7 linked regions of the Homo sapiens genome follow. The protein of the gene in region 1 purifies or fractionates together with the protein of each later gene. This does not show direct contact. Each region holds a gene or a part of one and is shown in the gene's direction. Other genes may lie near its edges. The genes, in order: MTMR14, TMPO, ACSL4, UGGT1, SDHB, SFXN4 and AFM.

What was found.
Region 2: the proteins of MTMR14 (region 1) and TMPO purify together in Homo sapiens (affinity purification with mass spectrometry, with the first as the bait; 2 studies listed by BioGRID). This does not show direct contact.
Region 3: the proteins of MTMR14 (region 1) and ACSL4 purify together in Homo sapiens (affinity purification with mass spectrometry; 2 studies listed by BioGRID and IntAct, with this or other methods). This does not show direct contact.
Region 4: the proteins of MTMR14 (region 1) and UGGT1 purify together in Homo sapiens (affinity purification with mass spectrometry, with the first as the bait; one large-scale study listed by BioGRID). This does not show direct contact.
Region 5: the proteins of MTMR14 (region 1) and SDHB purify together in Homo sapiens (affinity purification with mass spectrometry, with the first as the bait; one large-scale study listed by BioGRID). This does not show direct contact.
Region 6: the proteins of MTMR14 (region 1) and SFXN4 purify together in Homo sapiens (affinity purification with mass spectrometry, with the first as the bait; one large-scale study listed by BioGRID). This does not show direct contact.
Region 7: the proteins of MTMR14 (region 1) and AFM purify together in Homo sapiens (affinity purification with mass spectrometry, with the first as the bait; one large-scale study listed by BioGRID). This does not show direct contact.

The regions. Positions count from the first base shown.
Region 1 is NC_000003.12:9,648,078-9,652,304, forward strand, and holds the start of MTMR14 (phosphatidylinositol-3,5-bisphosphate 3-phosphatase MTMR14), read left to right. Parts: upstream 1-1,427; 5' UTR 1,428-1,506; coding exon 1,507-1,665; intron 1,666-2,250; coding exon of another isoform or gene 2,251-2,452; intron 2,453-4,227. UniProt on the Homo sapiens protein: Lipid phosphatase that specifically dephosphorylates the D-3 position of phosphatidylinositol 3-phosphate and phosphatidylinositol 3,5-bisphosphate, generating phosphatidylinositol and phosphatidylinositol 5-phosphate.
Region 2 is NC_000012.12:98,522,090-98,525,589, forward strand, and holds part of TMPO (thymopoietin), read left to right. Parts: intron 1-3,500. UniProt on the Homo sapiens protein: May help direct the assembly of the nuclear lamina and thereby help maintain the structural organization of the nuclear envelope. Possible receptor for attachment of lamin filaments to the inner nuclear membrane.
Region 3 is NC_000023.11:109,726,758-109,730,257, reverse strand, and holds part of ACSL4 (long-chain-fatty-acid--CoA ligase 4), read left to right. Parts: intron 1-3,500. UniProt on the Homo sapiens protein: Catalyzes the conversion of long-chain fatty acids to their active form acyl-CoA for both synthesis of cellular lipids, and degradation via beta-oxidation. Preferentially activates arachidonate and eicosapentaenoate as substrates.
Region 4 is NC_000002.12:128,178,200-128,181,699, forward strand, and holds part of UGGT1 (UDP-glucose:glycoprotein glucosyltransferase 1 precursor), read left to right. Parts: intron 1-268; coding exon 269-370; intron 371-1,586; coding exon 1,587-1,671; intron 1,672-2,690; coding exon 2,691-2,873; intron 2,874-3,500. UniProt on the Homo sapiens protein: Recognizes glycoproteins with minor folding defects. Reglucosylates single N-glycans near the misfolded part of the protein, thus providing quality control for protein folding in the endoplasmic reticulum.
Region 5 is NC_000001.11:17,020,628-17,023,032, reverse strand, and holds part of SDHB (succinate dehydrogenase [ubiquinone] iron-sulfur subunit, mitochondrial isoform 1 precursor), read left to right. Parts: intron 1-302; coding exon 303-425; intron 426-2,405. UniProt on the Homo sapiens protein: Iron-sulfur protein (IP) subunit of the succinate dehydrogenase complex (mitochondrial respiratory chain complex II), responsible for transferring electrons from succinate to ubiquinone (coenzyme Q).
Region 6 is NC_000010.11:119,141,715-119,145,214, reverse strand, and holds part of SFXN4 (sideroflexin-4), read left to right. Parts: intron 1-2,841; coding exon of another isoform or gene 2,842-2,850; exon of another isoform or gene 2,851-2,962; intron 2,963-3,500. UniProt on the Homo sapiens protein: Mitochondrial amino-acid transporter. Does not act as a serine transporter: not able to mediate transport of serine into mitochondria.
Region 7 is NC_000004.12:73,495,245-73,498,744, forward strand, and holds part of AFM (afamin precursor), read left to right. Parts: intron 1-55; coding exon 56-188; intron 189-2,407; coding exon 2,408-2,505; intron 2,506-3,500. UniProt on the Homo sapiens protein: Functions as a carrier for hydrophobic molecules in body fluids. Essential for the solubility and activity of lipidated Wnt family members, including WNT1, WNT2B, WNT3, WNT3A, WNT5A, WNT7A, WNT7B, WNT8, WNT9A, WNT9B, WNT10A and WNT10B. Binds vitamin E.

The DNA.
Region 1 (4,227 bases):
ATATTGTTAATTTTCTTAGGCATGTTAATAGCCTTATATTTTTTATGTATTTTTTTTTTGAAGTACAAATCTGTTGTGATAAATGCTTAAGTATTCACAGCTGAAATAATGTGATGTCTGGGATTTGCTTTAAAATAATTCCCTGGATGGGAAGGGACTGCTTAAACAGGATAGATAAGCAGATGTTGATTATTGTTCAAAACCAGTTAATGGGTACATGAGGGTTCATTATACTATTGTCTCCACTTTTGCGAATGTCTGAAATATTCTAATAATAATAATAATGAGAGGCTTCTCATCACAGAATTTCAAGGCAGTCGCTTCACCTCCCTGACTCCCAGTTTCTACCTCAATAAAATAGGGCTGATGATATAATGCACTGTACTCACAGGGATGTTGTGAGCAGCAGGGGGAGAAAGGGTTTTATGAAATGTTGTGTTTTTGTTTTTGTTTTAGAGACGGAGTCTCATTCTGTCACCCAGGCTGGAGTGCAGTGGCGCGATCTCGGCTCACTCTCCGCCTCCCGGGTTCAAGCAATTCTCCTGCCTCAGCCTCCCGAGTAGCTGGGATTACAGGCACCTGCCACCACGCGCGGCTAATTTTTGTATTTTTAGTAGAGACGGGGTTTCACTGCGTTGATCAGGCTGGTCTCGAATGCCTCACTTCATAATCCGCCTGCCTCGGCCTACCAAAGTGCTGGGATTACAGGCGTGAGACACCGCGGCCGGCTGAAATGTTTTAATATTGGTAACCACTGCCATTATGGTTTCTAGTACTAATTTGTTGCCTCCAAGCGTTCTCTCCTCCTCGCCCTGTAATTTTTTTTTTTTCTTAAGACAGAGTATTGCTCTGTCACCCAGGCTGGAGTGTAGTGGTTCGATTTCGGCTCATTGCAACCTCAGCCTCATGGGTTCAAGCGATTCTCCTGCCTCAGCCTCCCAAGTAGTTGGGATTACAGGTGGGTGTCACCATGCCCGGCTAATTTTTTTATTTTTAGTAGAGATGCGGTTTCACCATTTTGGCAGCCTGGTCTCGAACTCTTGGCCTCAAGTGATCCGCCCGCCTCGGCCCCCCAAAGTGCTGGGATGACAGGTGTGAGCCACCACGCTCGGCTTCCCTGTAATTGTTGATTCCACTTTTCCTCTGGTTCTTTTCAATGGTTCCTTCCTGCTACCCCCCTCCCCCGGCAGCCCAATGGTTGAGCCCGGCTTCCCCGGGGGAAACCCCTTGGGGCGGATCACGCGGTATCAGCCAGTGGCCTCCCTGGTGGATAGAAGGATCGCTCTGCGCCGGGGGCGGGCCAGTAATCGTAGGCGGGGCGCGGGTCCAGAGCTCCGATTGGCCAGAGTCGGAGTAAACATCCGGCGGGACGGGGCGGGGCCGGAAGTGGAAGTGGAAGTAGAAGGCGGTGGCTGAGGCGGTTCCGGAGGTTCTAGTGTCGGAGTTGGGTGCAGGCAGGTGCCATGGGCCCGCTTGAGGCACACTGAGGGGACGCGGGGCTGGGCCATGGCCGGCGCTCGGGCCGCCGCCGCCGCTGCCTCGGCGGGGTCCTCGGCCTCTTCAGGCAACCAGCCGCCTCAGGAGCTGGGGCTTGGGGAGCTGCTGGAGGAGTTCTCCCGGACTCAGTACCGGGCCAAGGATGGCAGCGGGACCGGCGGCTCTAAGGTGAGATTGGAGGTGCGATGAGCTGGGGAAGGCTCCTAACTTGGGAAGTTACAGAGGAAAGGCTGAGGCCAGGGGTCAGAAAAAGGTAGGAGTGGTACCTCGCCGCTGAGGAAGAGGAGAGAGAGAGAGGAGTTCTCCAGGGTCTGTATCCGGAGTATAAGAGTCGGTCTTGACAACCATAAAAGGAGGAACTGGGGTCAGAATGAGCCCAGCAAAGAGGTCCTTCTTGTTTGAGAAGGGGTCTGGAGGTGAGAGATCAAGCTGAGGGGCCAGGTTCAAAGATCAGAGAGGAGGACCTAAGGAAGGTCTATTCCCTGCTTCAGGTGCCGTAGGATGAGTTGTGTCAGGGAAAAAGCCCCAAGAAAAAGCTAAGAAAAATAGGGAGACGATTCCTCGGGGTCAGAGGTCAGAATGGAGCCAGGAGGTGAACCCAGTGTGCTGCCCCCTTATAAGGTCTCAGCATGACTTAGGCCCATCCCTTTCCTTCCCCTATAGAGCAGGAAGACAACCCACACTCCCTTTCAGTTCCTTTATCTAAAGCAGGTCTCCGTTCCTCTTTTTGCTCCCTTTGGGATTTCCACCCAGTCGTCTTATCGCCAGACCTGGAGGGCTTCCTGTCAGCTCAGGCCATCCCCACCCTAAGCACTGGCTGGCAGTGCGGTGGGAATCTTGCCGACCCTGCCATCTCATTCCCCCACGTGGTTTTGGCAGCTTTAGCACCAAGTTTTCCAGTGGAATTCTGTTCCATCCTGCACCACAGAACTCTGATTTGACCTCAGAGATTACCGTGAGTTGCTATTCTGTAGTTGGCATCTTGTAGTCTCTGAAGTAACCCAGGGAAGACTTCAGTAAGGATTGGACTTCCTCACTCTCCAAATGGCCAAGTAATTTTTCCAAGTATAGTCTGGGGACCACCTGTTTAATGATCATCTGGGGTACTTTTAAAATTTGTGCTTATGGGATACTTTGTGAAAACAGAGATTCCTTAGTCCCACCCAGTCCTACCAAGTCAGAATTTCTGGGGGTGGGATCCTGGAATTTGCTTTTTTTTTTTTTTTCTTTTGAGAAGGAGTCTCGCTTTGTCGCCTAGGCTGGAGTGCAGTGGCGCAATCTCAGCTTACTGCATCCTCCGCCTCCCCAGTTCAAGCAATTCTCCCTGCCTCAACTTCCCAAGTAGCTGGGATTACAGGACCCCACCACCACGCCCAGCTAATTATTGTAGTTTTTAGTAGAGATGGAGTTTCCCCAGGTTGGCCAGGCTGGTCTTGAACTCCTGAGCTCAGGTGATCCGCCTACCTCAGCCTCCCAAAGTGCTGGGATACAGGCGTGAGCCACCGCGCCTGGCTTTTTTGTTTGTTTGTTTTTGTTTTTTGTGTTGAGACAGGGTCTCGCTCTGCTGCCCAGGCTGGATTGCAGTGGTGCAACCATGACTTACTGCAGCCTCGAAATCCTGGGTTTGAGCGATCCTCCCACTTAAGCCTGCCAAGCACCTGGGACCACAGGTACACACCACCATGCCTGGCTAATTTTTCTTTATTTTCCTAGAGACATGGTCTCGCTATATTGCCCTGGCTGGTCTCAAACTCCTAAGCTCAAGCAATCCTCCCACCTCAGCCCCCCAAAATGCTGGGATTACAGGCGTGAGCCGCCACACCTGGCCAGTAAGGGTCTTTTGAGTGGCTGTAGGTCATTGGTTTTTCTGGACCCCTCTTCCAACTTACATGACCCTGAAGATTAGGGTTAGCATAAGTTACACCTCATATTGGCTGCGGCTGGCCTTAATTATCTCTCCAGGCCTTCTGATCTCCTGCAAACTTAGATGTATATATATTTATATGTATTTATAACAATTCAGGCAGAACAGGGAGTTAGATCTGTAACTGAACAATCGATTGAGATAACTCACTACCTTTGGACTAACTTCTTGCAAACTTTTTTTTTCAGAAGGAGTCTCCCTCTGTCACCCAGGCTGGAGTGCAGTGGTGCGATCTTGGCTCGCTGCAACTTCCACCTCCTGGATTCAAGCGATCCTCCTGCTTCAGCCTCCCTAGTAGCTGGGACTACAGGCATGCACCATCATGCCTGGCTAATTTTTTTTTTTTTTTTTGAGATGGCGTCTCACTCTGTCGCCCAGGCTGGAATGCAATGGCGTGATCTCGGCTCACTGCAACCTCCGCCTCCTGGGTTCAAGCGATTCTCCTGCTTCAGCCTCCCCAGTAGGTGGGAGTACAGGCGCCCGCCACCATGCCCAGCTAATTTTTATATTTTTAATAGAGATGGGGTTTCACCATGTTGGCCAGGATTATCTCAATCTCTTGAACTCGTGATCTGCCCGCCTTGGCCTCCCAAACTGCTGGGATTACAGGCATGAGCCACTGCACCCAGCCTAATTTTTGTATTTTTAGTAGAGAAAGGGTTTCACCTGTTGGCCAGGCTGGTCTCAAGCTCCTGATCAGAAGTGATCTGCCCTCCTCGGTGCCTCCCAAAGTGCTGGGATTATAGGCGTGAGCCACCATGCCTGGCCCTCTTGCAAACTTCTTGATGTTACAGTTCTTATGCCTT
Region 2 (3,500 bases), on another chromosome or scaffold:
GTGGTATGATCATAGCTCACTGCAGCCTCAAACTCCTGGGCTCAAGCCTCTGGAATAGCTGGGACTACAGGTGTGTGCCACCATGCCTAGCTGATTTTTAAAATTTTTATAGAGATAGTCTCACTATGTTGACCAGGCTGGTCTTGAATTCCTGGCCTCAAGGGATCCTCCTGCTTAGGCCTCCCAAAGCGTTGGGATTGTAGGTGTGAGCTGCTGCTCCTGGCCAAATTATGAATTCTCAATAGGAAATATTTGAAGACCTGGAAAAGAACATAAAAGCATGCTACCAATAGGAAATGTTAATTAAATCACAAATTTACCACCACTGTATAATAAGGTGTTAAGTTTACAGACTTGTGAATAATAGAGTTATAGATTCAAATTCCAGGTCTGCCACTTATTCATATGACACTGAACAGTGTCTTAATCTAAGATCCTCTATTTTCACCTGAAATAGAGGAATAACCTAATAGCTACTTAATCAGATTGAGGAGTACATGCCATTGCATATGTGAAGTGTCTAGTGCTTAGTAATTAATAGCCATTAAATGATTTCTGAATTTTTGTCTTTAATGTCAGGGCAATATAGTGCAATGTTACTAAAATATAATTTTGGGAAACGAATAAGGTAGATAAGTGAAAGTGACATGTATATCATAGCATGCAGATTTCCTGAGTTAGTGAAGAGCATGCTTGAACCTCAGTTTTCTGAGTTGTCAGATGGGGATATTAGCATTTTATTCCATAGATTTTTAGGACTCTGTAAGTTAATGCAAAGACACTTGGAACACAACTCAGTACGTAATACATAATAAGTGCCCACTAGAATATATTGTTATGGTTCAACATCTTTATACTAGAGGTAGAGATTAAAGGAATTAGAGAAGCTCATCGGTGATATCATAGAGCTGTTGGGTTTTGAAGTTGAAAAATACGTTAGAGATCATCGGGTAGCATAGTAGGTACTATTTTTGAGTGAAACTCTTAAGTGATCTACTTAAAGGAACAAAGCTTTCTGGAGGCAGAATTTAATGCAACTGATGCTTCCTTTTTCCTGACTGAAACTGCTAATCATGTACAGCACACTGTCTCCTAATTTTTTATCCTTATTAAATCTGAGATTTATAAAATGACATCACTTTTCTGGAACTTTTTTCCTGACAGATTAAAAACCACATGTTTGACTGTGTGCAGTGGCTCACACCTGTAATCCCAGCACTTTGGGAGGCCGAGGCAGGTGGATCACCTGAGGTCAGGAATTCGAGACCAGCCTGGCCAACATGGTGAAATCCTGTCTCTTCTAAAAATACAAAAATTAGTTAGTCGGGTATGGTGTTGCGCGCTTGTAATTTCAGCTGCTTGGGAGGCTGAGGCAGGAGAATCTCTTGAACCTGGGAGATGGAGGGCATGCCACTGCACTCTAGCCTGGGCAACAGAGTGAGACTCCATCTCAAAAAAAAAAAAATCACGTTTTTGGTTTTAATTTATCTGACTTACCTTATGTAGATTTGTTGGTCACTTATTTAAGATATCTTTGTTCAGCTGATGTTTTTCATTATGTTTGAAGGAAATATAATTGATTTTCTTTCTTTCTTTTTTTTCTTTAGGCGAAGTCTGGCCTTATCACCCAGGCTGGAGTGCAGTGGCGCAATCTTGGCTCGCTGCAATCTCCGCCTCCCCAATTCAAGTGATTCTCCAGCCTCAGCCTGCCGAGTAGCTAGGACTATAGGCGTGTGCCATCACACCTGGCTAATTTTTGTATTTTTAGTAGAGATGGGGTTTCACCGTGTTGGCCAGGCTGGTCTCAAACTCCTGACCTCAACGGGAGATCCTCCCTCCTCGGCCTCCCAAAGTGCTAGAATTACAGACATGAGCCACTGCCGAGAATTGGTTTTTACTTAGATTTGATAGGCCTGTTATTTCTAATAAGAAATGGATTTTCAAAAATAAATTACTTTTTCCTTCCCCAGATTTGACAAAACATTTATCAGGGGGCTATTCCTGTATCAGTCTTTTTAGAAATGTTTAGATGCTTGGAATAAGAATATGAGGATGATAGTGCGTCTGCTTTCTGTTGCTTGCCTCAATGCTGCATCCAGATCACCTGGGCTACACAATTACAAACAGATTATCTGGCCCAAGGTGAAGAATCAGAAATGGGTAAGACCTTTCCAAATAGAGGTAACAAGAGTTAAGATTTTGGGCTGGGTGCTGTGGCTCACGCCTGTAATCCCAGCACTTTGGAAGGCTGAGGTGGGCAAATCACGAGCTCAGGAGTTTGAGACTAGCCTGGCCAAAATGGTGAAACCCTGTCTCTACTGAAAGTACAAAAATTAGCTGGGCGTGGTGGCATGCACCTGTAGTCCCAGATACTCAGGAGGCTGAGGCAGGAGAGTTGCTTGAACCTGGGAGGCAGAAGGTTGCAGCAAGGCAAGATGGCGCTACTGCACTCCAGCCTGGGCGAGAGAGTTAAGAGACTCCACCTTGAAAAAGAAAAAAAAAAAAGAGTTAAGATTTTTTTTGAGACAGAGTCTTGCTCTATCGCCCAGGCTGGAGGGCAGTGGCATGATGTCGACTCACTGCAACCTCCGCCTCCCAGATTCAAGCAATTCTCCTGCCTCAGCTTCCCAGGTAGCTGGGATTACAGGCATGTGCCACCACACCCGGCTAATTTTTGCATTTTTAAAAGAGACGGGGTTTCACCGTGTTGGCCATGCTGGTCTCGAACTCCTGACTTCAAGTGATCCACCCACCTTGGTCTCCCAAAGTGCTGGGATTACAGGCATGAGCCACTGCACCTGGCCCAAAGAGATTTCTTGAAAACCTCTCAGGCGGGTTTGAAAAGTTGGAATTTCCTGGATGTTTTATTGATAGTAAATTTGAACATTCTCGTGGTAGTGGGGATTATGTACAAATAATTTGAACCTGATTGATTGTTTTTCCATGTTTTATTTTTATTTTAAGCATTATTTAGTTTTTCTGTACTACCTGACTGCACTTTTTGGAAAATTTGAGTAAGTCAGTAACATAGGATTAAGTTTGTTTGATTAAATCTTTTCTTGAAAGAAATAAGTCTTAGAACTCTTAGACCCTAGGCAACTATTTGGATATTATGGTGTGGGTTGCTTCCAGATATGAGCCTGACAGTTCTAGGTCAGTGCAATGTATGTGAATTAAAGCCTGCTAAAAGTACTCTCACTGTAACTCTCCACAGCCGTCTATTTAAGATTTCTCGTAAGTTGACATAATTGTTCTTATGAGCAGCTATTTTTTTGGTGAAGGTTTTTTGGCTTCTGATTATAGAATGATTAGCCATTAGCAGCTTTTTAAAAAGAATTTCTCATATCTTGCTTTATTTGAAGTATTTCAGGCCAGGTTCCATGGCTCACGCCCGTAATCCTAGGACTTTGGGAGGCTCAGGCGGGCATAACATTTGGGGTCAGGAGTTCAAGACCAGCCTGGCCAACATGCTGAAACCCCGTCTCTACTAAAAATACAAA
Region 3 (3,500 bases), on another chromosome or scaffold:
GATAGTTGTAGATTCACATATAGTTGTAAGAAATAATACGCTTTATCTAATTTCCCCCAATAATAGCCTCATGCATAAGTATAGTGTAACATCACAACTACAAAATTGAAATCGATGCAATCCATCAACCTTACTCAGATTTCGTCACCTTTAATGCAGTCATTTGCATGTATGTATTTAGTTCTACATAATGTTATCACGTGTAGATTTATATAAGCACTACCACAGTCAAGATACAGAACAATTGCATCACCACAAGGATCCTTTTTGTTGTCTTTTTATAGATGTAGCCATCTCCCTTCATCCCTGACTCCTGGCAACCACTGATCTGTTTTTCATGTCTATAATTTTGTCATTTCAAAAATGCTTATATAAATGAATCACACAGTATATAACCTTTGGAGACTGACTTTACTTCACTCAGCATAATTCCTTGGAGATTAGTGCAAGGAATATACCTTTTATCAATGGCTTGTTCCTTTCCATTGCTGAGTAGTATTCCATAATATGGATTTACTGCAGTTTGTTTAACCAGTCACCTCTTGAAGGGCATCTGATGTTTCCAGGGTTTTTGTTTGTTTTACTTATTTATTTATTTATTTATTGCCTATTTTGAATAAAGCTCATATGAACAGTTGTCCACAGGATTTTGTGTGAACATAAATTTCTGAAATGCCTGAGAGTGTACTTCTTGGGTGGTATAGCACTTGCATGTTTAGTTTTCTAAGGAACTGCCAAACCATTTTCCAGAGTGGCTGTACCATTTTACATTCCCACCAGGAATGTGTGAATGCTCCTCATCCTTGACAGCATTTGGTGCTGTTACTATTTTTTATTTTAGCCATTCTCATAGGTGTGTAGTAATATATCCTCCTAGTTTTAATTTGCATTTTTCTGATCGCCAATGATGTTGATCATTTTTCCATGTGTTTATTTGCCATTCTCTGTATCTTCAGTGAAATATCAGTTCATGTCTTTTGTCCATTTTCTATTTGGATTTTTTTTTTAACCTGGTGAGTTTTAAGAGTTTTTTATTATTTTTTTGAGACGGAGTCTCGCTCTGTTGCCCAGGCTGGAGTGCAGTGGTGCAATCTCACTGCAAGCTCTGCCTCCCAGATTCACGCCATTCTCCTGCCTCAGCCTCCCAAGTATCTGGGACTACAGGCACCCGCCACCACACCTGGCTAATTTTTTTTTTTTTTTGTATTTTTAGTAGAGACAGGGTTTCACCGTGTTAGCCAGGGTGGTCTCGATCTCCTGACCTCATGATCCACCCGCCTCGGCCTCCCAAAGTGCTGGGATTACAGGCGTGAGCCACCGCCCCTGGCCTTTTTATTCTTAATACTAATCATTTGTCAGGTAGTGGTATGAAAATATGTTCTCCCAGTCTGTAGCTTGTCTTTCCAACCTCTTCACAGGGAATTTCACAGAGCAAAAGGCTTTAATTTGGATGAGGTCCAGTTTATTAATTTTTCCTCTATGGACTGTGCTTTTGGTGTCAAGAAATCTTACAAACTTTTGTTATTTAATTTGATTCCTTTCTGTTCTGTATAACATCCATTATTTCTGTAAGCTATTTGAGCATTTTCTCTTTCAACAATTTTAGAGCTCAAATATATTCTGTGAACAAGTGGCCTTAATGGCTTAGAATGTTAATACATATTCACACATGCTCTCACTATATTAAAATGGCTGCCTTAAAAATATAATGTCTACCTCACCAGGCTGTCAAATGCAACATTAAAATTTGTATTTTAAAATTAAATAGACGCATGATATGCTAAAGAGGTTTTTGGTTTCACTTTCTAAATTAAAAATATTTTGGCAAAACTGTATCATTTTCCATCAAGGATTTTGGTAAGTAATCCAAAAAACAAATTTGTGTTCTTATTTAAATGTACTTTGAAAGTCTACTTCTGCATTTTGAGTAGTGAAGTTATGATTCATGACCATGTATTTAGCAGACTTTTCTACTCACTGTTGATTATGAGAATAATGAATAAAAGATCATTGTATTTGACTGTCTAGACTGCATTTTTCCTTTTATAGCAGCTACATGACACTCATTGTAACTGTCTTTTGAAATAAATATTAGGTTCAAGGTGATGTTTACAGTTTTATATTTTGAAAAATGTATGTGCTCATATGAGAAGGAATTATAGGAAAAGGTTAGTGATTAATTTTGAGAATATTCATTTCTGTAAGGCAGTACTGAAATTATTTGTCCCTTCAGTGTTACTATATTTACTCAAATATGTGTGCAGTGAGGGAAGTAGATTGTTATTTGAAAAAGATAAAACATTGGTATAAGGCAGGGGCTGGCAAAATACTGCCTGTGGCCAAATCCTGCCCACCACCGGTTTTTGTAAATAAACTTCTCTTGGAATATAGCCACATCCATTAATTTATGTGTTTTCTGGCCGCATTCACAATACAACATCAGAGCTGAAACAGAGCCCTTATGTCCCGTGAAGCCAATTTTCTCTCTGGACCTTTACAGAAAAAGTGCTGACCCCAGAGATAAGGTAACCTTATAAATTGTTGATTACACACACACACACACACACACACACACACACACACACACACACACACACACAATTTAACAAACTACCCTGACTTTTTATACCTTCTGGTTACATTTCCAGGTGATATTGTGATTCAGGAGAGTGCATTCATTTTCTTTACTAAGTCTCCAAAGCACTGTGGTCTAGGAGCAGCAATAAGGAATGCATAGAGAGTTGAGACGGTTGATTTTGTTGTTAAGTGTGGGTTATTTAAATGTGAATGTGAATTTACATGTGTGGCAATCAGTAAGCTGCAGATAGACTTCTATGCAGTCTATGATGTCTTTTGGAGACCCTGTTGTGAGCTGTAGCGGTAATAAGAGAGCCAGGCATGGTAGTGTTTTTGCTCCTGAAACTGCTATGTGATCTTTAAGTACATAGTAGTAAGAGCCTATCAAACTGAGCTTAGACTGTTGGTTTATTATTTTGTTTGTACAACTTCCTTTTTTATAACGAAGCAGTTGACACTTTAGTTCTTTTAAGTGTTCTAAGTGTAATGTTGAAAATGGAAATTGAGTAAAGACAGGTGGCTGTGTATTTAGAAAGTAATAAGTCTCCATCTCTCATCATACACAAAAATAACTTAAGAATATATTTTAAAAATCTAAGTATATATTTTAAAAAATCTTCTGGAAAGTGTAAGACATCATAACCCAGTTAAAAAGACAAGTGATGGCCGGGCACTGCAGCTCACGCCTATAATCCCAGCACTTTGGGAGGCCAAGGTGGGAAGATTGCTTGAGCCCAGGAGTTTGAGACCAGCCTGGACAACATAGTGAGACCCTGTCTCTAAAAAAAAAACAAAAAAAACAAAACAACAACAACAACAACAAAAAACAACAAAAAAAGCCAGGCATGGTGGCATGTGCCTGTAGTCTTTGCTACTCCAGAGGCTGAAGTGGGAGGATCCCTTGAGCCTGGGAGGTCGAGGCT
Region 4 (3,500 bases), on another chromosome or scaffold:
ACTTCCCGTTGTGTAAGTTGCATTCTGGTGCAGCCTGTGTTCAGTCTCTTCCTAAAACAACACTGTCGGAGAGTGAACATTCTTTTTGTAGGTTGGTTTTGTCAGTCTTGTGGTCTCTCCAGGGTGTGAGGGAAGCTTCATAACCACTCCTGCTGCAGCTCACCCGCTAGGGAAGGATGGGAAGCGCAGTCTCTTTCCTCTTACTTTCAAAGGCCGTGTGTCTGTATGAGTGTTTCAAGTGGTCTTTTTTTTACCCTTATTGTTATAGGGGCTTTACAGGACAGAAGACTGAGGAAGTGAAGCAAGATAAAGATGACATAATTAATATTTTCTCCGTTGCATCTGGTCATCTCTACGAAAGATTTCTTCGGTCAGTCTTGTTGATTATTTCATTATATATGATGAATGAATTGGTCAGTGTTCTTATTTAGAGAGGAAAGGTTTTGTGGGATTCTGCTCATTATACTCCTGTGTCTTTGAAGCACTCTGAGCATTGTGACTGGCTTGCCATTTATCATTGGATTTGTTTTGATCCCGCCGTCTCTGTGAAGTTGAACTATGTAGTGAGTGCTTCTGGATATTACAAGGCTGCAGCCCTTTAACGTCACTGTACACATTCATAGACTGTACTGTTTACTGCCTGCCAAACATTGCTTAACCCAGAGATTAGGAGGTTGACATAGAGAATAGAATCAGAACAGAACCATGGAATACTTCACTGCCTTGTAAAGATTCACAGGATTTTAGAGCCAGGAGAGAGCTTAGTTCTTACATGTGAACACTTCTGTTTTATAAACAGGCTGAGGCCCCGAGTGTGAAGGGACTTGTCTAAGGTCACACAGCTACAGCCAGAAGAGGCCACGGGCTAGGGCTGCCTGATGTAGTGGTCACCAGAGGCACTGTCAGGAAGGCCTGAGAGTCACTTTTCTCATTGCCAGGGCTCTGTTCACTCTTAATTTTTCACTACAGATCTAGTATAGAAAATCAAAATGTCATTTGTCTCATTTTTAGCCCTCTTATTTCCAAGAAATAATATCCTACCTAAAATAGTGACAATAATAACAACCGAATTTGGTTAAATTCCTCCATTCAAAAATGTGGTTTTGTTTTCTGAGTAAGGAGGCCGGAGCTGGTAGCCTTCCTCTCTAAAGCAGGGCCTCTGTGTAGGCTGCAGGAGGCGCTGTGGTTACACATTCTTCCCTTAGCACCAGATGCTGATGTCATGTGACAGGAGTTTTGGGGAGTGATGTCAGTTACCCCGATTTCCAGGGTTCATCTGGACCATAACTAATATATCAGTTCATGAAGCAGTTTATTTAGAGGTGTAACAGAATTAAAACATTTGCCTCTGTCAGTTAAGTGTAGTTTTATAGGTGAGGAATGCCCCTTCTCTTTAGTGATAACTTCATAAGTTGGAGTAAGTACAATTTTTCATTTTCCATCACTGAGCGTCTCCCTCGGCCTAATTGAGCCATTAGTTAGCTCTGCCGTAAAGAGCATTTAGGTGTCTCGTGATTGACTCTACATAATGTTGAGGTTAAATAACATTGGAAAGCTGTTATTAATTACCTGCTTTTGTTTGGCAGCATAATGATGCTATCCGTGCTGAAGAATACCAAGACTCCTGTGAAATTCTGGTTCTTGAAGAATTACTTGTCCCCCACATTTAAGGTTTGTTTCACAGAGAAAGGGAAAACATTCTTATTAAGGAGATATTTACTGTATATTTTTCATGACTTTTGTTTTATCTGTATACTTTAGCAAATTTTCCATTTACTAAGATACCCTAATTTGGTTGCATATTTTTATTTTGATTATTCTTCCAGATTGGTCTATTTGAAGGAAACAGTTAAATTGTGTTTAAAAACTTGGATGATATGGTAGGAGAGTCTTTTGTTGTTGTTATTATTAGCAGTGTCTTACTGAGATAACGTTTCCTTCCTCTGAAGCCTGCATGCTTGCTTTAATTTAGAAAGCACAGCGATGGTTTACATTGAAGAGAATGATTGGTGTTAGCATGAACCACTCCTAGATGATGTATGGAAGTAGTGCTTCCTCTGTGCAAAACAAAACACGTACTTGGAATGTTTTCTGCATTACTTATATCAGTCAGTATTTGTCATCTAAGTTGATTTATTTGCATCCTTTTTTTTTCTTGTAGAATTTACTAAGTGACTTTTAATATATTCAATAACCATTCTCCTTGATAAGCACTTTACTGCTGGCGCCTAAAGGTGCTTATACTTAGAATCTGAAAGACTTATTCAAAAAGGACAACACATTTGTCCAGAGTTCTGGCTTTGCAGTGTTATTCCCTGGGTTAGATCTGGCCTCGAGGAAGGCTTGTCATCAAGCTCAGTAAATGCCTTACTGAAATCAAGTTTAGACAAATGGACTTAAAGTTCATGTGCTGTAAAAACACACACAGAGGGATATACATCTAAAATCCTTCTCTTGAACATTCTGTCATTTCATGTGGTGACCAGAAGTCATAAAGAAATGGGGATTTGACAAAGGTTTATATCTGTTCTTCTATGTAGTCATGAGTGGGTCACGGCCGGTCTTTGTAAGACCACTGTTTTGGTAAATGTGTTTTATTTGTCCCGTATCATGGTGGTTGGCTTACATTATGAAAGCAGTTTTCTTAATCAGAAGAAATGATTATTTGTTGTTCCCATGTCTAAAAATAGGAGTTTATACCTTACATGGCAAATGAATACAATTTCCAGTATGAGCTTGTTCAGTACAAATGGCCCCGGTGGCTTCATCAACAAACTGAAAAACAGCGTATCATCTGGGGTTACAAGATCCTCTTCCTGGATGTACTTTTCCCACTAGTTGTTGACAAGTTCCTGTTTGTGGATGCTGATCAGGTAGGCCCTTAAAGGCCAAGTTTTGACAGTTTGTATTAAAAGCAACAAATTGCTTCTTTTTAAATGCTATTTTTTCCACTTATGGAAAAGGACATGCTTATTTTACATTTAGAAAATATGAAAATATGTATCACATAGATGTCATCACTTTTTAAATTTGCATTTAGCTTATCTCCTTTACATCTTTTTCTCTGTCTTTTTAACATCATTGTGATGACATAATGTGTGCAGTTTTGTATCTGACTTAATTCATTTAACATGAAAACTAAAAATTAGAAAATTAACATTTAGCAGTGCTTGCCATCATCTCTAATTATCTGCCCAAAAGATAGGAGTTATTGTCATGGGTAATAGACGAAGCTTAAGTGGATACATGGCTTTGGCAGTAGGGAACCTCCGGATATTCTTCCGGCCGTCAGGGTTTGACTTAGTGAAAGGGAACATGTGATTTTAGAGCATACAAACTCAAACAGCATAAGTGTACGTCTGCCCACAGCCTTCCACTTCAGCCCGAGCGGGCGGAAACCCAAGTCAGCCACCTGAGTGGAAGGATGTAATGTGTGTGAAAGTCACTGGGACAGAGACTTCACTCACCTCTTTGGAATTCTCTTCCACTGGCTTAGCCTG
Region 5 (2,405 bases), on another chromosome or scaffold:
AGCTGGGTAGGAAGCTATTGAGCAATGTGAAATAATTAGGAGATGATACCCAGTGTGTATAATTAAGCACCCGGGTACCAGGTGCAGTATGGATCAAAGGTTTGCAGGGACCATTAATCAAGTGAAGCTACAAGTGTTGGGAACCTTTCCTTGAAAGATGGACAAGAATTAAAGAGTATGGAGATGAGGCATCTAAGCTGAGTGAATTCCCTTTCCTCTGCACTCCCAGAGCTTTGAGTTGAGCCAGGGTGCCGCTCTGGCCTGTTGATTGGCAGCTCAGCTAATCATCCCTGGTTTTCCAGGCCTATCGCTGGATGATTGACTCCAGAGATGACTTCACAGAGGAGCGCCTGGCCAAGCTGCAGGACCCATTCTCTCTATACCGCTGCCACACCATCATGAACTGCACAAGGACCTGTCCTAAGGTACGTGGGGCTGGTGACCCTCAGCTCTGCCTCAGAGCTGACACGCCAGAAGTAGCATGTGCTCACAAAGAGGTGATTGGCAGAGAGCAACCCTAGTCATTTGAGAAGGAAAGGGACCAGCATATGCCTGTCCTTTCAGTGTGAGCCTAGGGGCTAGTTTGGCTCTTAGTTGCAAGGAGTAGACTGACTCGGGCCACCTCAGGAGCAGGCTTTATTTGTAGGCTACACAGGGACATTGTGGGAGTTAAGGATGCACAGGAACCCATGAGCAGGTACCTGCGTTCAACCTTCCCAGGAAACAGAAAGCGAAAGCCGTTGGAACGTGGGCAGCTGTGAGGACTTCATTTCTTCTCCATCTTTCTCGCGATGTCAGCTGCTAATCTGCTCTGCTCTCTAGCAGCCTGTTCTTTCCTTCGGCTCTGTGGAGGTTTTCTCTGACTCAAAGCTCTGGCTTTCGTTCCTCTTCCTGCTCGCATTTGCTGCTGCTTTTGGCTCACTCTGGCCTGGATTTTGCCTCCCAGCACACTTCCAGCTTCAGCCACCCGCCTGCCTCCCAGCACTTCTCAGCACAGTTTCCTGAGAGGGTGTCGCATTGGCCCAGCTCACCTTCTCATGCCTGCACATCAGAGGCCACAGCTGGCTACAGACCGGCTGCCCTTTGGCCAGGTTCTGTCTCAGTCTGTTTTGTGGTACTATCACAGAATTTCAGACTGGGTAATTTTATAAAGAAGTTTATTTGACGCACAGCTCTAGAGGCTGGCGCCAGCATCTAACAAGAACCTTCGTGCTGTATTACCCCATGGCAAAAGGCAGAAGGGCAAGAGAAAGGGAGCCCAAGCTCAGCCTTTTTTTTTTTTGGAGACAGAGTTTCGCTCTTGTTGCCCAGGCTGGAGTGCAATGGCACGATCGATCTCAGCTCACCACAACCTCCGCCTCCCAGGTTCAAGTGATTCTCCTGCATTCGCCTCCCGAGTAGCTGGGATTACAGGCAGGCACCACTCATGCCTGGCTAATTTTGTATTTTTAGTAGAGATAGGGTTTCTCTATGTTGGTCAGGCTGGTCTCGAACTCCCGACCTCAGGTGATCCACCCACCTTGGCCTCCCAAAGTGCTGGGATTACAGGCGTGAGCCACCGCGACCGGCCCCTCTCATCTGTTTTTTTTAAAAGACAGGGTCTCACTGTGTTGCCCAGGCTGGGGTGCAGTGGCGCAATCATAGCTCACTGCAGCCTGGAACTGCTGGCCTTAAGTGATCCTCCTACCTCCTGAGTAGCTGGGACTACAGGCACACACCACCACACCTGACTAATCCAAACTCATCCTTTTATCAGGAACTTACTCCTATGATAATGGCAATCCATTTGTGAGGGCAGAGCCTTCATAATCTAATCACTTCTTAAAGGTCCCACCTCTCAATACTGTTGCATTGGGGATTAGGTTTTCAACACATGAGCTTTTGGGGACACATTCAAACCATAGCAGGTGTCAGCCCTGGTCCAGTCAGCCTTGCCCAGTGGGCAGGGAAGGGCTAGGGCTGTGTGGTTCAGAACACGGCTGCCCTCCGAGCAAAGACTGTGGGTGATTTCACTCAAAAGTTGCAGTGAGTCAGTGGGCGGCAAGGTGGAAAACTGTAGGGTGGCCAGTTAGCCGTAAAAAAAGATCACACTGTGTGTTTGAAAACATGAAATCCAAGCTGTAGAATTCACTTATTTTTTGCCTGGAAACCCTCTGTGTTTCCAGTGGCCTCGCTGGGGGAGCCCACAGGCTTCAGCTCCCTATTGCCTGGGCTTCCATCTGGGTCCTGTCCCCAGGACTGTGGTTTACCATGATTGTGCCTGTGAATAGCTACTGACCTCTGAGGCAAGTTATGCTATAAAAGTGCTTGGAACAGTGCCTGGCACATAGTAAGCACCCAATAAATGTCACCTTATGTTATTTTTTAAAAAAACATGAGTACTGGGCTTGTTTGAGACAGAGATA
Region 6 (3,500 bases), on another chromosome or scaffold:
AGGCTGCGGAGGAGGAAGAGGGATTGGTCTTGCTGTCTCAGGGGTGACTGAGGGGGAAACAGTATATAAGTGGACCTGCATTGTTCAAACCTGCATTATTCAAGGGTTAATTGTAATGATATTTATATTTAATTCTATCCCTCAAATCTCTTGGTGCAGTTTTGGGTTCTGTTTTTCTTAACAATATTTCATAAGCCTTTTTTTCTGGGGCATAAAAAGAAATCTTTTAAAATTACTTAGAGAAATTTTAAATACTCCAAAATGTTCTATAACTACGCCCTCTCCAGTGGAACTTTCTGCAGTGATGGAAATGTTCTATAATAGATTGGTGCTGTCCAATTATGGTAGCCATGAGCTACGTGTGCTACTGAGCACTTCAGGAGAGGCTGGTGTGACTAGGGAACTGAATTGTAAATTAAGTTAAATTTTAAATTAGGTACTCTTGTGTGCTTAGTGGCTATTGGACAGCCCAGTTCTATAGATAATTTATAATATAATTTATGATGAGTCAGGCTGCTTGGACTCAGATTCCAGCTTCTCCATGACCTTGGTCAACTTGCTTAGTTTTCTTATCTGTTAAAGAGAGCTGAAGATAATGGCATCTCTGCAAAGGGTTGTTGCTTAGTAGGTAGCAAGGACATTTTTTTTTTTTTAAGTCAGAAAGCCAATTTTTTTAATTTCCAAAGCTCTGCCATAAATTGCTAGCAGATGTCAAAGACATTACTGATGCTAGCAGATATTAGCAATTTTTTTTTTTTGAGACGGAGTCTCGTTCTGTCACCCAGGCTGGAGTGCAGTGGCGCAATCTCGGCTCACTGCAAGCTCCACCTCTCGGGTTCATGCCATTCTCCTGCCTCAGCCTCCTGAGTAGCTGGGACTACAGGCGCCCGCCACCACACCCAGCTAATTTTTTGTATTTTTTAGTAGAAATGGGGTTTCACCATGTTAGCCAGGATGGTCTCGATCTCCTGACCTCGTGATCCGCCCGCCTCGGCCTCCCAAAGTGCTGGTATTACAGGCGTGAGCCACCACGCCCGGCTGATACTAGCAGTTTCTTGGCTAAACATTTCAAATGTTCATTTCTGTCACTATAAATATATATGTCCTCAAAAGCATTTATATTTATGGAATGATCTTGTTCAGAACCCACGTTTTATAGGTTTAGGTTGTAGGATCATTCATTCAAGCAACTTTGCCAGCACAACGTAGAAGTTTCAGATTATTTTAGATAGTTATGCCTATTACTATGCTATGGGCGAGGGGTTGGGGAGCGAGGCAGCATCTCAGAATAAAATTTCAGGCCAGGCACGGTGGCTCATGTCTGTAATTCCAACACTTTGGGAGACCAACGTGGGAAGATTGCTTGAGGCCAGGAGTTCCAGACCAGCCTGGGGAATGTAGTGAGACCTCGTCTCTACATAAAATGTTCTAAAAATTAGGTCGGGTGCTGTGGCTCATGCCTGTAATCCCAGCACTCTGGGAAGCCCAAGTGGGAGGATCACTTGAGCCCCGGCGTTCAAGACCAGCCAGGACAACATAGCAAGACCTCGTCTCTGCTAAAAATAAAAATTTGGCTGGGCACAGTGGGTCATGCCTGTAATCCCAGCACTTTGGGAGGCCGAGGTGGGAGGATCACTTGAGCTCAGGGTTCGAGACCAGTCTGAACCTCATCTCTCTTCTGAAAAAAATTGTTTAAAAAGAAAAAATAATAATTAGCCAGGCATGGTGGTATGTGCCTGTAGTCCTAGCTACTCAGGCAGCTGAGGTAGGAAGATCACCTGAGCATGGGAGGTCAAGGCTACAATGGGGTCACAGAGTGAGACCCTGTCTCGAAAAAAAAAAAATTAGTAGGGTGAAGCGGCACACACCTGCAGTCCCAGCTACTCAGAAGGCTGTGGTGAGAGGATCACTTGAGCCCAGGAGGGAGAGGGAAGAGTTCATCCCCAGTGGAGGATGGGAAGGGCTGAATGGGCACGTGAGGCTGCAAGGAACAGGCAGGATGCTGGGGGCCAGGTGGCAGGGCCTGCACAGCCAGGCCAAGGAGCAGGGCAGCAGGTAAGTCATGCAAGGTTGGAAGGGGCAGAACTCCCAGAGGCCAGAGTGGAGGCAGGAAAGGGAGTCAGTCTCACGCGTGACCTCAGATGCCAAGACTTGCTTGCTGGACTTTGGAAATATCCTGTTGGGGCCGGGCGTGGTGGCTCATGCCTGTAATCCCAGCACTTTGGGAGGCCGAGGCGGGCGGATCACGAGGTCAGGAGATTGAGACCATCCTGGCTAACACAGTGAAACCCCGTCTCTACTAAAAATACAAAAAAATTAGCCAGGCATGGTGGCAGGCGCCTGTAATCCCAGCTACTCGAGAGGCTGAGGCAGGAGAATGGTGTGAACCCTGGAGGCAGAGCTTGCGGTGAGCCGAGATCGCGCCACTGCACTCCAGTCTGGGCGACAGAGCAAGACTCCATATCAAAAAAAAAAAAAAAAAAAAAAATTCAAAACATTAGCTGGACGTGGTGGCGGGTGCCTGTAGTCCCAGCTACTCGGGAGGTTGAGGCAGGAGAATGGCGTGAACCCCAGAGGCGGAGCTTGCAGTGAGCCGAGGTCGCGCCACTGCACTCCAGCCTGGGTGACAGAGTGAGACTCCATCTCATTTAAAAAAAAAAAAAAAAAAGACACAAAATATCCTGTTGGCTCAAGGAGGGCATGGAGGTGCTTAGATGAGATAAGGAGTTATTACTAATTTTGTTAGGTGTGACAATGACATAGTAGTTTTGTAACTACTGTCATTACTATATCAAGTACTATATCAATAATGATAAGGTCTTTATCATTTGGAACTTGTAGGTGACATGACATGAGAATTGCCTTAAAATACTCAAGGAAAAAAATCCTACTGCTGGGTGTGGGAGGTGCTTGATGAAATGAGATCTGCAAATTGTTAATAGTGATTCCTGAGTGAGCACATGTGAGTTCATTACATTCCTTCTACATTTGTTTTTTGTTTGTTTGTGTGTTTGAGACAGGGTTTCTCACTCTGTTGCCCAGGCTGGAGGGCAGTGGTATGATCATGGCTTACTGCAGCCTTGACTCCCAGGCTCAAGTGATCCTCTGACCTCAGCCCCCCAAGTAGCTGGGACTACAGGAACGTACTACCACACCTGGCTAATTTTTTATTTTTTGTAGAGATAGGGTCCCACTATATTGCCCAGGCTGATTGCAAACTCCCCACCTCAAGCAATCCTCCTGATCTCGGCTCACTGTAACCTCCACCTCCCAGGTTCAAGTGATTCTCGTGCCTCAGCCACTGGAGTAGCTGGGATTACAGGTGTGTGCCACCACACCCAGCTAATTTTTGTATTTTTTGTACCATGTTAGCCGGGCTAGTCTTGAACTCCTGGCCTCAAGTGATCTACCTGCCTCAGCCTCCCTAAGTGTTGGGATTACAGGCATGAGCCATTGTGCCCAGCCATCTTAAAACTTTTTAATGGAAACTTTCAATTATA
Region 7 (3,500 bases), on another chromosome or scaffold:
TTGGGTTTTTTGCTCTTTCTCTAATTTCTAATATACAAAATTTTACACATTGCAGGTTTACTTTTGAATACTCAAGGAGACATCCAGACCTGTCTATACCAGAGCTTTTAAGAATTGTTCAAATATACAAAGATCTCCTGAGAAATTGCTGCAACACAGAAAACCCTCCAGGTTGTTACCGTTACGCGGTAGGTTCCATTGTTGTAGGTTCAGAAAATCAAAAAAGAACAACTAGAAAACACTTAAAAATTGATATCAGAGTTTTGCTGCAGTCTGGGGGTAGAAAATGTGATTGGCTAATCTGAGTCCACTGTAGATTCAGCCTAAGAAGATTATTGGGAAGGCCAATGTCATCAGTTTGGCTGATGCATAATGTTTTGGACTACTAATCCAATGTGTTAATTCAAAAAAGTCTTCCCATTAAACATTTTAAATTTACATTTTTCTTTATGTATTCTGTATTTTATTAAGCCGTATTGGATATTACATGATTTCAAAAGCAATGATTGCTGTAGATGACTAGGAAAATATTCTGTATTTTATTAAGCCATATTGGATTCTTTATGGTTTCAAAAGTAATGATTGATTGTTGTTGATTATTAGGAAAGCAACAAAGGTTACAAAGAACCCTTTTCTGATTCTCCCACTGGGAAATAGCTATAATTAACATTTGTGTTCAACTCTTCAGTACATATACGTATATATACGTGTATTTTAAAAATAAGATTGGCATAATTCCTAGAAAATGTTTGGACCTGTTTTTTTATTTGGTATCATAGAAAACTTTTTTGTTGTTGTTGTTATAAATTGTGCTTCCTTGGTTTCCTGCTGTTGCCACAAAGGGAGCGGCTTAAACCAACAAAAATTTATTCTCTCACAAGAGGCCAGAAGCCTGAAATGAGTCTCATGGGGCTAACATCAGGTGTCAGAAGGGCTGTGTTCCCTCTAGGGAAGCTAGTCCTTGACTCTTCTTGTGTCTAGTATAGAAAACTTTTTACGTCATTAAACAGACTTGAAAATAAACTTCTTTTTAAATGATGGTATCCCATCATAATTATTTAATTTATTTAACTGATTTCCTACTGTGTGTTTGACATTTTGGATGTTTGCTTAGGGTGTTTTTCACTTTGTAAGTGACCCTGAGATGAACGTCTCCTTCCATTTATCTTTATTAATATTTATGGCTTTTTTCTTAGGATGGATTATCAGAAGGAAAATTATTGGATCAAAATATATGAACTTTAAAAAACATTTAACACAAATTGTTGAATTACTGTCAAGAAAGTTGTTTCTGGTGTCTGGCCCCACAACAGTGCTTGGAAATGCTCATTTCAATGTCACTTTTACCAACATTGCACATGGAAATTAACTTTGCTAGATTTATATGTAAATAACAGTGTTTGTGTTTTTAAAACACCTTTATTTGATTTTTAAATTGTTAAATTTTTTCCATATGATTTTAGCTATTTACACATTTTCTGTGAAAAATCTGTTCATGTGTACTACCCATTTTCCTGTTGAAATTAGTGTTTTTCATATAAATTCATATGTATTTCTGAATACATATTAGAGAAATTAATAATTTGACATTTTTTGATTTATTTCTCCTTCCTTTGATATGTGCTACTTTTGCTTTAGCAAAACATTTTTTTTCACTTGCCACAAACACCAGTTTATACCCACTCAAATTTGAGCAATGGAATAAGACTTGGATCCCTGCTCTGTAACTGTCCCTAATGAGGTAGTCTGTTTCTGATCCTTAAATTAATCATAGCGCTAGAAAATTCTCTCTTTTCATGGAGATACAATTTGCTCCACAATAGCTATCCACTGGTGTTTAGTTCTCTGTCTGGTGGCCACTCAGAAGATGTCCAATTTTATGCCACATGAGAGATAGTCCATCAAATATTTGAAGAAAACTGTTGGAGGTTTTAAGTTCCAAATCTAAACAATGAAAAAATCAAAAAGAGCAACATGATTTAAAATGTTCTGTAACAACACTTACTAGCTGGGGTATTCTGGGTAAGTCACTTAATTTCACAAGGCCAGTTGCCTTTACTTAAAAATGGAGATAACAACTGCTCTTGCCACTTCAAAGTGACAACTGAATGTTATTATTTTCAACATACAATTTAAATTCTGTTTTGTAATTTGGAAGGCTCTGAAATATGTACAAGGTGATAATAAAAAAATTTGGACTTTTAAATTTAGCAAGAAATATATTTTTATATACATAATTAAAAAATTAAGTTCTTGCACGTGCTTGTAAAAAGTGCCCTGAATTTAGTGTAATAATGAGAATTTGAAAATACCATAGAAATAAGAAATGCTATTCTACACATTGATGTAAAGCTTATGGTTAAATTTTAGATAAAATGTTTGTAACCATGATTATTCTTATTTTCAGGAAGACAAATTCAATGAGACAACTGAGAAAAGCCTCAAGATGGTACAACAAGAATGTAAACATTTCCAGAATTTGGGGAAGGATGGTTTGAAATACCAGTATGTTGTTTGCACAAGTGGGCTAACACTTGCCACTAGAATTGAATACATAATCCCTCGAAGCGTAAAAAAGTTAGCTGTCAAGTTTTTCAGTTATGGCCGATTCATAAACTCTTGGAAGAATTTTTTTTTAAAGTCAAGAATGCCTATTGAACTGTCACATTAATCTTTTATCAGAAATGAAGCTAAAAATAAAAGAAATACAGGATTCTGGAGACATTGATTCTCTAATGCTTTGGTTTCTGTTTGACATTGGCTTTCTCACTGCCAATCTAGAATCCCTGCATCCTCACCCATTTCAAAGTGGGACACTGCATATTTCAGGTCATTACAGTTTCTTTGGGGAAGAGATAGTTTGCCTTGCCTTGCCTTACGGCTATCTTACCTGAGTTTATAGAAATAACTCAGGATGTGTTTAACACTTTAATATTTAGCTTTTTAGTGCTCTTGTGAGCATTTGTGAATAATATGCAGTTTGGGTTTTTTTCAATTATTATGTCAATGTATTTTATTATCATTATTATTATTGTTATTATTATCATTACTACATATTTTTGAGACAGGGTCTCTCTGTCACCCAGGCTGGAGTGCAGTGGTGTGATCTCAGCTCACTGCAATCTCTGCCTCACAGGCTCCAGTGATCCTCCCACGTCAGCCTCTCAAGTAGCTAGGGCTACAGACGTGAGCCACCATCCCTGGCTGATGTTTGTATTTTTTGGTAGAGATGGCGTTTTGCCATGTTGCACAGGCTGGTCTTGAACTTCTGAGCTCAAGCAATCCAACCCTTCGGACTTTGCTGGGATTACAGGTGTGAGCCACTGCACCTGGCCTCATGCTAATGTATTATTTATTGAAACTAAACATCTTTAAATCAAAATAAAACACAGTTTAAAAATATCTGACTTTCCTATTTCTGCAATTTGGCTGTTAGCTGACAATTCAAACTTAGTTCATTAAAAATCTTAGTTTTCTTCATCTCAGATTATCCTTTTACA